3 separate regions of the Homo sapiens genome follow, and all the other regions are linked to region 2. The links come from fine-mapping of genetic effects on gene expression. A gene starts in region 2. Each other region holds a variant in brackets. All regions are shown on one strand. Distances are between the middles of the regions. Region 1 holds the start of LOC102723765 (a long non-coding RNA gene). Region 2 holds the start of AHNAK (AHNAK nucleoprotein). Region 3 has its middle 15 kb from the start of SCGB1A1.

The links.
Region 1: its variant is fine-mapped to the expression of AHNAK in monocytes after interferon gamma (Fairfax 2014, PIP 0.95).
Region 3: its variant is fine-mapped to the expression of AHNAK in NK cells (Gilchrist 2021, PIP 0.95). The same link has a PIP of 0.9 or more in monocytes, monocytes after LPS and monocytes after interferon gamma.

Annotation. Positions count from the first base shown.
Region 1 is chr11:62,426,669-62,429,330 of GRCh38, reverse strand. It overlaps LOC102723765 (a long non-coding RNA gene), which reads left to right and starts at 2,408. Exons shown (of 4, transcript XR_007062699.1): 1 at 2,408-2,644. RefSeq lists an enhancer at 2,623-2,662. The variant T/G (reference allele first, on the strand shown) is at 1,444.
Region 2 is chr11:62,545,231-62,548,031 of GRCh38, reverse strand. It overlaps AHNAK (AHNAK nucleoprotein), which reads left to right and starts at 1,226. Exons shown (of 5, transcript NM_001620.3): 1 at 1,226-1,372. RefSeq lists enhancers at 589-1,119, 1,698-2,208, 2,209-2,719 and silencers at 1,075-1,244, 1,365-1,434, 1,715-1,764, 1,775-1,894, 2,425-2,554.
Region 3 is chr11:62,432,431-62,435,231 of GRCh38, reverse strand. It overlaps a transcript of AHNAK not described here. Among named protein-coding and RNA genes, the nearest start is that of SCGB1A1, 15 kb to the right of the region's middle. RefSeq lists enhancers at 158-657, 658-1,159. The variant A/G (reference allele first, on the strand shown) is at 1,465.

The DNA of each region.
Region 1 (2,662 bases), 120 kb after region 2:
CTAACTTTGGGAAGGAATTCAGTTCATGTTTTGACTCTGAAACAAAATTGATAATAGCCATTTCCCTAAAAAAAACCCCATTCTTGCCTGTGGACCAGTCTGCCTTTGCAAGACTAACAAATTAGCTACAAGATTAGAAATTTAGTTTAGCGGTCATGCAGCCTCTGGCTCCAAGAGTCTGAGCCTCCCCAGATTGCTCCTGCAGATAACATCACTATTGTAAAACCTAAGATCAGTGCTTGAGATAGTTTGCAGACCCTGCATTCGATGGATCAGCTGACACAACCCAGACTGGTAATCTGGCTCAACCATTTCTGCCATCCTCCCCAGGAACAGAAGACAGCAAGAAAACCACACTTCCACCCCCTAGGATTCCATCTCCAGCCTGACCAATCAGCACTCCCTGCTTCCCAAGCCCTTACCCGCCAAATTATCTTTAAAAACCCCGATCCCCGAATGCTCAGGGAGACTGTTTGGAGTAATAATAAAACCCAGTCTCCCACACACCAGCTCTGTGTGAATTACTCCTTCTCCACTGCAATTCCCCTGTCTTGATAAATTGGCTCCGTCCAGGCAGCGAGCAAGGTGAACCCACCGGGCAGTTACAGCTATGGGCATATAACTGCAGGTATTTTCAGAGTTAACTAGACTCTTGTGATTAGCTGGGAATCCATTCACTTGATGGGGTAACAAATCTGAGTTCCAAACCCCCGGTTTATCAATTCCCAAGCTGGCAATCAATTCCCATGCTAGCTTAGCTAAATGTATTTTCAGATTTTTTTTTTTTTGGGGACAGAGTTTTGCTCTTGTTGCCCAGGCTGGAGTGCAATGGTGCGATCTTGGCTCACTGCAACTTCTGCCTCCCAGGTTCAAGCGATTCTCCTGCCTCAGCCTCCCGAGTAGCTGGGATTTCAGGCACCCACCGCCATGCCTGGCTAATTTTGTATTTTTAGTAGAGACAGGGTTTCTCCATGTTGGTCAGGCTGGTCTCGAACTCCCGACCTCAGGTGATCCGCCTGCTTCGGCCTCCCAAAGTGCTGAGATTATAGGCGTGAGCCACCGTGCCCAGTCTATTTTCAGATTTTTTTGCATGTACTATAGTTTTATAATTTTAGTTTGCTCATGGAAATATGTTGGGTGGCTAACTACTGATGATTCATCCTCACATTATCCCCATGTGCCTGTTGGTGTATTCTGAAAGTGCTTGGGAGGAACATCCCCTAATTACATGTTTCAGAATGCATTGTTTGTGTGGCCTCATCATCATCAATAAAACTTCTCTTGATCGTCTATCTGAAGCCATTTTGAGTGGCAGACACCCCTATGGTGATTACTGCCCACAAATCCCTTGGCTTTCGAAAACAGCAGGGCTTGCATCAGCTGCAAACTAGACATAATTTTATCCATATCATCGTGATAAGGCTAATGAAGGCTGGTTTTGCT[T/G]CTTCTTCCTGCCTCATGAGTCATTTACAGATATTTCTGTCAGGCTAACCTCAACTGTCTCTCATACACAACGGCAGCTTTCCTACTGATCAATTAGTCCAGGCACATTGACACAAGCCCCTGGATTTTGCAACGTGATGGCGGTGTTTGACAACTACCATTCTGCTTTAGCTTTCCTCCAGAGTAAGTTTCCTTTGGTTGCAGATTTCAGGGTTAACAGATACTTTCAAAAAGTTTTTCACTCAGATTCAGTTTTCTTGACAATGTGATCAAGAAATGTGGTCTTAGCGGGGCGTGGTGGCTCAAGCCTGTAATCCCAGCACTTTGGGAAGCCGAAGCGGGTGGATCACCTGAGGTCAGGAGTTTGAGACTAGCCTGACCAACATGGTGAAACCCCGTCTCTACTAAGAATACAAACAAATGACCAGGCACGGTGGCTCATGCCTGTAATCCCAACACTTTGGGAGGCTGAGGTGGGCGGATCACCTGAGGTCGGGAGTTCAAGACCAGCCTGACCAACATGGTGAAACCTGTCTCTACTAAAAATACAAAATTAGCCAGCCATGGTGGCATGCGCCTGTAATCCCAGCTACTTGGGAGGCTGAGGCAGGAGAATCACTTGAACCTGGGAGGTGGAGGTTGCAGTGAGCCGAGATTGCGCCACTGTACTCCATCCTGGGCCACAGAGTGAGAAACCGTCTCAAAAAAAAAAAAAAAAAAAAATAGGCCATAGCCTGAGCTTAGCCTGCTGGCCATAGTCTACAGACCCATGCTATAATACACGAGTAACTGGTGTGAGTAACTACACACAGACAGAAAAGCACCCAGTGAACAGTGCCTTCATTTCTCGAATTTCCTGCTTTCTGTCAACATGCATCACACAGTTACATGCTCTTCCTGTGGTTGCAATCAGTTTATCTTTGCATTCTGCTGTTTTAAAATTTAACGCCCATTTCTGTGGATTGGCATAGCCCACATTCTTGTGAATCACCCACAGTGATTCCTGCAGTGTTGTCCCCAGCCTCAAGCCTCTCTGCACCGTAATTGTGCTTCTTTTCCTCAGATACCTGCCTTGCATTGGCCCTGGGTAAATGTTTCCCTTGGCTGTGAATAGGCAATTAAAATTCTGAACCTTTTATGGCTCTGGAAGCTTATCCGATGAAACAATACTCATCCAGGCGGATGGCCCACCAGCGCAAAGGTATGTGCTTTAGGATGA
Region 2 (2,801 bases):
TGTCTCTTCCCTCCCCCACGGCCTGTACTCTGTGCCGGTAACTGGACCTGGACACAGCCCCCAGGGCTGGCAGCAGAGTTGACTGCTGGGTATTTTTAGCCTGTAAACATGTTTGCCATTTCAGAGGACAGGGCCGAGCTGGTCTCAGCTCCAGCCCACTCATGATCTTGCAGCAAGGAGGGCGCTCCTGCCTTGGCCAGGTCTCCTTAGTTCCCCAGCCTGGGGTCTCTCTTTCCTTAGCATTTGGGAAGGAGGGGAAACTGGCTTGGAGCGGGCAGTGGGTGGCCACCTAGGAGGGAGGATAAAAGGACTCATGAGGGAGAAGAGAAAGGGAGTGTGGAGGGGAGTGTGTAGCCAGAAGGCCCCCGCACCCCATCATTAAACGTTTAATAAAATCTCGATGTAGTTAGAAGTGGCTGTGGGAAATCGCTGTAAATTAGGAGACTCAGCGTCCCGCAAGTGGGGAGGCGGGGGCGGCGCTCAGAGAAGGAATGGGAGGCAGAGGAAGCGCTGGGGCTCTGGCTCCTGGGGGCGGGAGTCTGGAGAGGAAGGTGGGCGTCGGGTCCGCTGTCCAACGCCCGGGGTCCTCACCCCCGTATGCCCGCGGCCTGCGCAGCACCGCGGTGCGCGAGGCACTGGTGACCCCGGCTCCTGGGGGGTGGAAATCCAAGCCAGTTCTGTGCGGATATGGACGGAGGGGCCCCCAGAAAGAGAGAACGCGAGAAATGGGCGCGGCAGCACGGAGCTTGGGAACCAAGCAAGGAGGCTGGGGCCTGGGATCTGAAGTGTAGTTGCCTAAGCTGAGAGAAAACTCAAAGGTCCGGAGCAAGCTGACGGTCGCGGCTGAATCACCCAGCCACCTTCAGAGCCCCCAGGCCCTTCCTGCAAAATAAGTTGATTCGCAGTTCCAGCTGTGAGGGTGAGCCCAGGGAGCCTGCAGGAGTTTCTTGCCAATGAAGCCACACAGTGCACATGTTGGAGAGCAGGTCCAGGTCCGGGACAGGACAGGGGGCAGTGGATGCGGGGAGGGGGGGAAAGAATGTCCCCGCGTCCCCCAGCGGCCCCCCTCCCCAGCAGCCCACTCCCGGGTCCCTCCAGGGTCTGCCCCGCTCGCCAGTCCCAGCCCCGCTCCGGCCCCGCCCGGCCCCGCCCTCTCCCCACAGCTCCGGGCAGACCCGCCCGCCCGAGCCGGAGTTACAAGAGCCGCCTCCGCGCACGGGGGCCCGGCCACTCGGAGCTGCTCTGCCGCGGGGACTGCACCGCCCGCCCTGCCAGACCCGCCCGGAACGGGGCTCGTCGCCGCCAGTAGCCGCAGCACCGCAGCCTTGGGCCTCGCGCCGGCTATGGCCGTGCCCTGGGGCTGAGCCCTCAGGTAGGGGCGCCAGGCGCACCGTGGCGCCATCGGGGTCCGGGGCACCAAGGGCGGGTCGCGGGGAGGTGGGTTGCGGTGCTCCGGCAGGGCGCGTTGTTGGGGGTGTCACTGTGAGGATTCAAGCAGTTTGGAGCAAGCGGGGCCACCCGGGGCGGCGACGCGTCGCTCTCTGGGAGCGGAGTTCTGCCTCTGGAGTTGGGGCGCAAGTTGGTTAAAGTTGGAAAATCGCTCCGAAGTGCTTTGCTCCACTCTTTATTTCTCCGGAGGGCGGACTGTTGGCTCCACTGCAAGGCAGGGCGCCCCGTTCCGGGCCTGGTGGCCTCTGTCCCACCTCCTCTCCCTGCATGGGGCGGTGGCTCGGGGGCTGCTCCGTTCGTATCCCATGTTTACTGGAGGGGAAATTTCCGAGATCGCCACCGCGGCCCCCAGCGCCTCCGCGCCTCCGCGACCCCGCACCGTGCGCCCCCTCGGCTGTCCTTCCGCGCTCCCTGCACCTCTGCCCCTAACCGCGTCCCGAGTCGTCCAGGCCCCACCCTGTTCTGTACCACCAGCCCCTCAGCCTCCTCCAGCTGCCCCGCCCTAGCCTTGCCTCTCCGCGTTCCCCGCTCCAGAAAACCTTCCTCTCGGGCCGCGGAACCTGGAAGTTTGCAATGCGCCTCCCAGCGGGATGGGTGGGGAGGGGGACAAAATTAGGGAGATTCCTATGCTGAGGTGGGCGAGGAGGGGGGTGCGCTGCGGCGGCCCAGTCCTCGGGACCGCCCCTTCCCCTCCGGAGGCGGCGCTTTCCCCCCGCCCAACTCCCAAACCCGTCCGGGCGGGATGGCCCCCGCCCCAGAGCCTGGCCCGGCGCCAGCAGCCTGAGGAATGTGGTGGTTGGAGCCGGTGACTAATTCAAACCAGAACTCAGGGAGGAGTGGTGAGGGGCAAAGGGGAGGAGGAAGGGGCTGTGTGTGGGAGTTGGGGGCAGGAGCCGGGCTTGGCGTGGGAGGAGGGCTAAGCTGCGCTCGCTGGAACCCTGCGCTCCAGCGGTGCGCGCCAGGAGAGGGGGCCCGAAGCGAGGTCTCGCCTAGAGTTGGAAAGGCAGCGTGCTTAGGGTGTGTGCAGAGCTGTGTTATGTAAGGCTTTCCCATGCAAGGGGAGGGGGTGTGTGTGTGCAGTGTGCGAGGGCCTGGGCCGTCCCTGGCAGGGCTGGTCGCCCCCCAGCAGTGCCCAGGCCGGGATGTGGGGGCGCAGCCCCTTGGCGGCGCTGACCATGAGGGACTCCAGGGGCCCAAACAGGGCTGGCTGTGCCCCTTGCTGGGAGGGGTGCGGAGGGGGCAGATGGGTGTTCTCAGCTGTAGCCGAGGCCCCACAACAAGGTGGGGAACGGCTCTGGCCCCTCTGCACAATGAGGCCACTGAGGGTTGTGTGCGATGTGTGTGCTTGCCGG
Region 3 (2,801 bases), 110 kb after region 2:
AGCAAGGAAAGGGGGGCATTTTGAACTAGAGTGGTCAGATGGTGGTATTATTTGGCTGAGTCTTCAAAAATGGGTAGGATTTAGTCACAGAGAGAAGACCAGGAAGGTCATTCTCAATTAGGGGGAGGGCAGGAGGTAGTTTTTAGGAGCCAAGGTAAAGTTTGGGAAGGGTGAGCAGGTGATTTTGGTTGGTGCTTGAAACTTGTGTAGGGACTAGTAGAAGATAAAGTAGGAAAGGAGGCCTGGTTCCAGATGAGGTCCCATTAAGAAAGCTGGCTTTTTTTTTTTTTTTTTTTTTTGAGACAGGGTCTTGCCATGTTGTCCAGGCTGAAGTGCAGTGACAGGATCTTGGATCACTGTGCAACCTCTGCCTCCCGGATTCAAGTGATTCTTCTGCCTTAGTTTCCTGAGTAGCTGGGATTACAGTGTGTGCCACCACACCCGGCTAATTTTTGTATTTCTTTTTAGTAGAGGCAGGGTTTCACCATGTTGGTCAGCCTGGTCTTGAACTCCTGACCTTAGGAGGTCCGCCTGCCTCGGCCTCCCAAAGTGCTGGGATTACAGGCGTGAGCCACTGCGCCTGGCCCGAAAGCTGGATTTGTTTCTGTTGGAAAAGGAGTTGCTGAACTTTCTTGAGCGCAGGAGGTGTAAGATGAAGCCTGGGGCATGCAGGCCCACGTGGGAGGTGAGAGAGACCAGGCCAGGAGGCCCATGAGAGGACAACCTGCGCATTCATGGGAGTCCGATGGGGATGAGTTGGGTGTGACTCGGGGAGGAGGCACTGGGCTGGGACAGAAGATGTAGTAGTTAGGCTCTGGGAGACGACAGGGAGGGAAGGTGAAGGGCCATGAAGTCTCAAAGCCAGTTGCTTGGGTTCATGAAGCAGAAAGGGTTCATGAAGAGGAAAGGGAAGAGAGAAAGTCAGTTTGGAGATGATAATGAAAGGGATTTCTTAATGGCTGAGGCTGGAGGTGGCAGCTGTTTTCACGGTTCCTACCTTCCTCTGTTATTTGAATGTTCTTGGGAACACACTGTCCTCTTCTGGTCTCGGGCTTGTATGGGGGGCACCAAAAGGACAGACTCGGGCTTTATGCAAGCTTCCTTTCCACCCTTGCCGCACAGAAACCACACAGAGGGAGGCGTGGCAAGACCAAAAGAGACCCAACAGCAGGATCCTTTCCAAATCTATCCCTTCCAGAGGCAAGCATTTGTTTGGATGCCCTAGCAAGGAGTGGGGGGACCTTCTTTCAGTTGGTGCAAAGTTAACGAACCATCTTCTGATTTTATGGAGAGATGCAAATAGTGTGTTGAATATAAATCTCTTTGTTGTTGTTTTACAGGACTGTAGAAGCGGCCAGGAAGAAAACCACCCCCTCTTAAGGTTGTTTTTGTGACCGTTCTTTGGAGCATTGTTCTAAAAATGGGAAATTACATATTGCTGTGCCAAGGGCAACAAACACCTGC[A/G]GTTAAAGGAATACCTTCCGCGAGGCGGCTTTTCGGAGCATGCATGTTTATAGCTCCAGCCAGGCCAGACCGAGGGCTGCTGCATAAGCCCTGCTTGGTGCATTTCTTTACTTGCAAGGGGACAGAGTGTGGGCTTAGGTTTGGGACTAGAGGGGGCTTTGGCAACTATGGTGCTCAGGTGATTATCCTTCGCTCGTTTATCCAATAAACATTTATCAAGCATCTGTTCTTGTGTCAACCTTTGTGGTTTTCTCTGTTCCCTTCCCTGGCGTTGTGAGAATCCCTGGGAGAGTTGGCCACAGGCAGCAGCTTGCTGTCACTATTTTTTTTTTTTTTTCAGTTTTCAGAGTCAGCACATGACTGCTGCCTCCACATGACCGAGAACCCCCGCGCGTTCTCTCCTTTCTCTCTTTTCTTTCTCCCTCTTACACCCCTTGCTCCCCCTCCCCTTTCTCTTTCCTCTTTATTTATCTAAAAAAGGAGAAATGTAATCTTTTTTTTTTTGAGACAGTGTCTCACTCTGTCACCCAGTCTGGAGAGTGCAGTAGTATGATCTCAGTTCACTATAACCTCCACCTCCTGAGTTCAAGTGATTCTCGTGCCTCGGCCTCAGTAGCTGGGATTACAGGCCTGCCACCACGCCTGGCTAATTTTTGTATTTTTTTTTTTTTTTTTTTTTTTTAGTACAGACGGGATTTCACCACATTGGCCAGGCTGGTCTCAAACTCCTGACCTCAAGTGATCCACCTGCCTCGGCCTCCCAAAGTGCAGGGATTACAGGGATGAGCCACCATGCCCGGCCAATACATGTATTTTTTAACATGCCAATCGATACGTTTCTTCAGGCACACGCCTTTTCAAAGTTTCCTGTCACTGGGGGTCAGTCTGAAATTCTTATTCTATGGTAGCAGACGTTAAAGGATAACTTTCGATTATCTGGTTAATATTTAACTTTTATCAACATTGATATTGCAAAATAATCAGGTCTTGAAATTTATCAAGCATGAAATGAATACCATTCAGATGGATTTGTGGTTTAAGAGGAATCCAGTTTCATAAACGAGTCTCATCTTTTTTTTTTCTTTTTTTTTTGAGACAGAGTTTTGCTCTTGTTGCCCAGGCTGGAGTGCAATGGCGTGATCTCGGCTCCCTGCAACATCTGCCTCCTGGGTTCAAGCGATTCTTCTGCCTCAGCCTCCCAAGTAGCTGGGATTACAGACACCCGCCACCACGCCCAGCTAATTTTTGTATTTTTAGTGGAGATGGGGTTTCTCCATGTTGGTCAGGTGGGTCTCAAACTCCTGACCTCAGGTGATCCACCTGCCTCAGTCTCCCAA